2 separate regions of the Homo sapiens genome follow, and region 2 is linked to region 1. The links come from fine-mapping of genetic effects on gene expression. A gene starts in region 1. The other region holds a variant in brackets. All regions are shown on one strand. Distances are between the middles of the regions. Region 1 holds the start of ARAP2 (ArfGAP with RhoGAP domain, ankyrin repeat and PH domain 2). Region 2 has its middle 200 kb from the start of ARAP2.

The links. PIP is the estimated chance that this variant, and not a neighbour inherited with it, causes the effect.
Region 2: its variant is the best candidate, but not a certain one, in a credible set for the expression of ARAP2 in whole blood (TOPMed, PIP 0.62).

Annotation. Positions count from the first base shown.
Region 1 is chr4:36,242,786-36,245,702 of GRCh38, forward strand. It overlaps ARAP2 (ArfGAP with RhoGAP domain, ankyrin repeat and PH domain 2), which reads right to left and starts at 1,729. Exons shown (of 33, transcript NM_015230.4): 1 at 1,394-1,729. It overlaps LOC439933 (a long non-coding RNA gene), which reads left to right and starts at 1,331. Exons shown (of 5, transcript NR_122079.1): 1 at 1,331-1,426; 2 at 2,387-2,525. RefSeq lists a silencer at 1,525-2,104.
Region 2 is chr4:36,043,993-36,046,909 of GRCh38, forward strand. It overlaps a transcript of ARAP2 not described here. Among named protein-coding and RNA genes, the nearest start is that of ARAP2, 200 kb to the right of the region's middle. The variant A/G (reference allele first, on the strand shown) is at 1,204.

The DNA of each region.
Region 1 (2,917 bases):
ACACAAGCACACACCCATATAAATACGTTTTAACAAGCTCTCTCACTTACCCTCTAGGTACATTTTAATTCAAATAAATCTTTGAGTACTGACAAATCTATATAAAACCCTCTTCGTGTTAGGAACCACCTTAAATGTGTATGTGTTAAATATGTTTAGAAAGAAGCCAGGAAGATATTTGCACTTAACCCTAGCCTAGTTCCATGACCCACTTTTTTTTCTTCTTTAAACGTTGTTGGACAAAAAATGTCATGAGTATTTTCTCTCAATATTTCTCCTGTAAGTGTATGGAAGTCATAAATAAGAGTTAAAAAAAAAAGAGTTTAAAGGTATTTCTCTTTTTTTCCTTAAAAAAAGTTAGCTTGCTTTTTATCTTCCAATTACTTACGGGCAAAGTTCCATGGGCCTGTGGGGGTGTAGAGTGCTTAAGTGCAGATAAATCAATACTGAGCTTGTAAGTACAATACTATTATGAGTAATAACAATGACATCCTATTAAATGTACTTTTAAAAATAGCTTATTTTCAATACACTTCTTGATTTTTTTTAAACCGAAGGCTGTATTCTACTGAACAGCCTACTTCAAGGACAAGCTTGCAAAAAAAAAAAAAAAAAAAAAAAGAATTTGCTATCAGGATACCTACTTACAACACCCTAAGATGTCATTATTCCACACAAATTAGCTTATTTTCTTGTGTTTTCCTCTAATTATCAAAGGCTATATAATCCACGAACCCTTTCCCCAAATCAAAATAACTCCAGATCACCTCAAGGTAGGAGGTGTTTAAGAAAACAAGCCAGAATTAGATAAAGTAAAACTTACTTTATTAAATAGGATGGACACCACTTCTCCCAAGAGAACTGTCTCCAAAAGTAAACAAGAAAGATCAATCTGGTAAACTCACATCATACAGGTTCCCGTGTAAGGTATCGGGTTCAGGCAGGTGGAAGCCAAATGATCGTAATTAAAGTTAATTAACAGGCCAGTCGTCTTAACGTGGTTAACAAGCAGGGTGCGGGGCAGCACAGACACCCGGGCAAATTCATGATCTCTACCGAGTAAATAACTTGGTGCCTGAAACTCACTACAGCTTCTTCTTATTTAAAGGTAGGGGAGAGGAATGGAGGGAGTGTCCAGCTGTCTATCCGGATCCTCACCCTCCCGGGTCAAATCCCAGAAGTGGAGTTCTTGGATCACTTACCGGCTTCTGGTTTCCTTTCAGACGCCCACACGCGGGAGCGAAATCCAAGGGGCGGACACCAGAGCCGAGCACTTTGCGCTGAGGAAATTTACCCGGTGAAGTGTCGAAAAGCCCCAGCCCCTCCAGACAGGGTCCTCCCACCCCCGCGTGGGCCATCCCGGCCCAGCCTTCCCGAGGCCCCGGGTACTCGCCTTGCGCTCGGGTCGCGGAGTTCGAAAAGCGAGGTGAGGCGGCGCTGGGAAGCTCAGCGCCGGCGTCTCTCCCAGCCTTGGGCGCTCGGTCCTCGCCCCTCTGCCGGAGGCGCCAGGCCTCCTCTTTCCCGGTCCCCGCCGGCTGTCCGCAGTCGCCTCTGCTGCCTGGCGGCGGCCGCGCGGGCGGCGCTGTTAGTGGGGCCGGCGTGTCGCGGCCGCCGCACCTGGAGGCGGGGAGCGCGGGCCGCGGACCCGCGCTCAGCTCCGGAAACGCCGAGCCCGGCGCCCGCGCCTTGCTCAGGTGCTCCCGCGCCTCGCCTCGGCCGCCGCTTCCTCTCCGCCCGCGGGGGCGGGGAGCAGGCGCCCCGCGCGGGGGAAGCCGGAGCTCAACGGCGGGGGCGGCCCAGCCGGCCTCCCTGGTTCCGCAGCATAGTTGGGTGACTGACTCAGACCGCCGCGACTTGGCCGCGCCTGGCACCCTCGCCACCTGGCGCACCTCGGCCCGGAGGCGTCAGACCCCGCTGGGGAAGCTGCGGGGGCGCGCCCTGGAGCCCAGAGCGACAGGGGCATTACCCACCTTCCCGGGACGGAGATGCCCAGGACCTTGTGTTGGCTCCTCCTGGCCAGTGGGTTTGTCTGTGCGCACTCATGGGGGGTTGAATGTCAAATGGGCGGAACCTCGCCACGACTGATTATTAGTATTACTCTTCCAAGTACTTAAAGTGTTAGCTCAGCGTTTCCCAAACTGAAGACTCATCTAGGGCACTATTTTCCCCAGGCTGCTTCTATGTAAATTTGCTCCTTCTTGCACCTGTGGCGGTTAGATCCCAGAGGGGCATTTCCCCTTTGAGTTGGACTCTGACAAAGGAGGCAGCGAAGGAAAATAGGGGATCCCAAAGAACCCTTGTGGACCTCCAAATATCTAAGCGTCCGTAAAATCCAGTTATTTGCAAGTGAGTTCACAGACCAACTACTTTTTTTTTTTTTTTTTAGACAGGGTCTCACTTTGTCACCCAGGCTGGAGTGTAGTGAGGCAATCTCAGCTCATTGCGCCTCCGCCTCTGGGTCCAAGCTATCCTCCCACGTCAGCCTCCCAGGTAGCTGGGATTACAGGCGCGCACCATCAGCCAAGGTAATTTTTTTTGTATTTTTGGTATAGACGGAGTTTCGCCTTGTTGCCCAGGCTGGTCTCAAACTCCTGACCTCAAGTGATCCACCTGCCTCGGCCTCCCAAAGTGCTGGGATTACAGGCGTGAGACACTGCCCCCTACCAGCTTTTTTTTTTTTTTTTATAAACATCTCCCACAGACTACCTGAAATTCTCTTCATTAAAAGGTGAAATGTATTTATCTTTCCCCTGTTCCTGTTGATGGAAGTGAAGCAATTAAGGAAAGCGCAGACCTTATGAAAATGAGATAATTGGTGAAGTGCGGAAAGAGAGAGGCTTCCCACAAGCCTGGGCCCTTAGGATTCTTCAGTCATCACCTTCACCCACACTAACTACCTGCCCAAAGCACCGTCTTT
Region 2 (2,917 bases), 200 kb before region 1:
ATGATATTTGAGGTAATGCTTCTGGATGACATAACTCAGGAAATGCGCACCAGTATGGAAGAGAAGCACTCAGAGGAATAAGCAAATGAACATTTCGTGGTTTATGTTTACATTTATTTAGCATGTAGTGTCCCGTTTACCAAGTGAAAAAGGATGTGGAAAGAGTGATCATAAACCACCGATGTCAAAGGCCACTGAATAAATGAGTTATCCAAGGTATGAGAATTAGACAATTTATTTGGCAAACTAGAGGCCATTCATGATCTCGATTAGAAGTAGTTTGTTTCTTTGGTGGTGATGGGTCTGATTAGAGAAACTTCAAGAGAAAAATGGAAGTAAACAAGACACTGTAAAGAGGATTTTAAAAGTGGTTTGCTATTGAGATATTGGGAGGTAGCAGCAGTAGAATATGGTGTCAAGAGAGGGAGTTTGTGTTTTTCTGTCATTTCTTTTTTAGGTTAAGATGGAAGCTATTATAACATATTTGTATGCTGGTGATAATTGGCTATTCACTTGCTGAAACTGGACCTTTACCTCACCCCATATATAAGAATCAACTTAAAAGAGATTAAAAACTTAAGTATATGACCTGAAACTGTAGAGGAAAACATAGCAGAAAAGCTCCATGGCATTGGTCTGGGCAATGATTTCTTGGATAAAACCCCAAAAGCACAGGCAACAAAATAAAAATGGAACAGACAAATGAGACTAGATAAAACTAAAAAGGTTTTGTATAGCAAAGTAAACAATTAACAGGATGAAGAGACAATCTATAGAACAGGGGAAAATATTTTCAAATTATGCATCTGATAAGGGGATAAATTCAAAATATTTAACAAACTCAAACTACTCAATAACAAGGAAATAACCCTGCTAAAAAAAAAATGACCAAAGAACCTGAATAGACATTTCTCAAAAGAAGATATAGAAATGGCGAACAATAATATTAAAAAAAAGTGCTCAACATCACTAATCATCAGGGGAATACAAAGTAAAACCACAACAAGTTTTCAACTCATCATACCTGTTAGAATGGCTATCATAAAAAAGATGTGTTGGTGAGCGTGTAGAGGAAAGGAAACAATATATATTGCAGGTAGGTATGGAAATTAATACAGACATTGTGGAAAACAGTATGGAGTTTCCTTAAAAAACTATAAACAAAACTATCATGGTATCCAGCAATCCCAGTTCTGGGTATAT[A/G]TCCAAATAAATTGACATCAGTATGTTGAAGAGCTATCTGCACTCCCAAATTCATCACAGCATTATTCACAGTAGCCAAGCTATAGAAACAATTTAAATATCCATCAGTGGATAAGTGGGTAAAAAAACATGGTATATATTCACAATGGAATACCATTCAGCCTTTAAAAAGGAGGAAATTTTGTCCTTTACAACATCATGTATAATCTAGAGGGCATTATGCTCAGGGAAGTAACTTAGGCACAGATAGATAAGTACCATGTAATATTACTTACATGTGGAATATAAAAAAGTTGAATTCATAGAAATACAGAGTGGAATGGTGGTTATCAGAGGCTGGGGGGTTGGAAAGAATGAGGAAAGAGGAAATGTGAGACAAATGGTACAAAGTTTCAGTTAGGTAAGAAGAGTAAATTCTTCTAGTCATCAATTACACAGGATGGCAACTATAGGTCATAATAATGTATTGTATATTTCAAAATTGTTAAAAGAATCGATTTTAAATGTTCTCACCACAAGGAATGTATAAATATGTGAGGTGATAGATATGCTAATTAGACTGATTTGATCATTCTAAAACATATACATGCATCATAACATCACATTGTACCCCAAAAAGATATGCAATTATTGACAATGATCAAATTAAATAAATAAATAAATACAGAAAAAACTCAAAATGAATGGAAAATTTATAAAGTAAGAGAGGGGGATAAGAGGGGGACAATTGTCAGAGAAGTTTACCTATAAGGAAATTAAGATACAAAGCATTGAGAAACTTACCCATTTCCATAGCTGTTAAGTTTTAGAGCTTCAGTAAAATTTCAGAATGCCTCACTCCAGAGATTCCTTTGTTAATTTCTACTCTATGTTGTCTTTTCCTGAGTAGAGGAGGGAATAATTAACCAGGTCATTGTAAACTAGGCATATATTGCAAAATATATTCATTGTACCAGCCTATAGGTAAGTGAGCTCCTGACCAGTATTCTCTCTCTCTCTCTGTTTTGAGACAGGGTCTTGCTCTGTCACCCAGGCTGGAGTACAGTGGTGCAGTCACAGCTCACTGCAGCTCCACTTCCTGGACTGAAACAACAATACTCAGCCTCTTGAGTATCTGGGACTACAGGCTCATGCCACAATGGCTGGCTAATTTTGTTATTTATTGTTGTTTTTTGTACAGATAAGGTCTCACTATATTGTCCTGGCCAGTCTCAAGCTCCTGGGCTCAAGGAATCCTCCCACTTCAGTCTCCCAAAGTATTGGGATTACAGCTGTGAGCCACTGCACCTGGCCTATAGGTGCAGTGAGCCACTGCACCTGGCATATAGGAATTTTAATGGGCATAAAATTCCTATATGGATGTTAAAAAAAGTTCTAATGCAGACCACAGAAAGAATCTATTTTGAAGTGCTGTAGAAAATTAAAGGCTATCATCCCCAAAAGTTGTATGTAAGAGGAGCAGGCAGCAGAGCTAACCAGAGCCCTGGCCTACAAGCCTAAGCAAAAGCACTCACCCATCACAATAGGAAGGCAGAACAAGGAAACCAAGAAGTGTAAGCTTTTCTTTTCTTTTCTGTCCAGGCCAGAGTAGAGCAAGTTCACCAAGTTCAGCAAAATCTCCAAAACAGTGACAGTGAGACACATTGTTACCCACCTCATTAGGACAGGAAGATAACTTCATTAGATAGAAATATGTGAACAAAACATGTTTAAA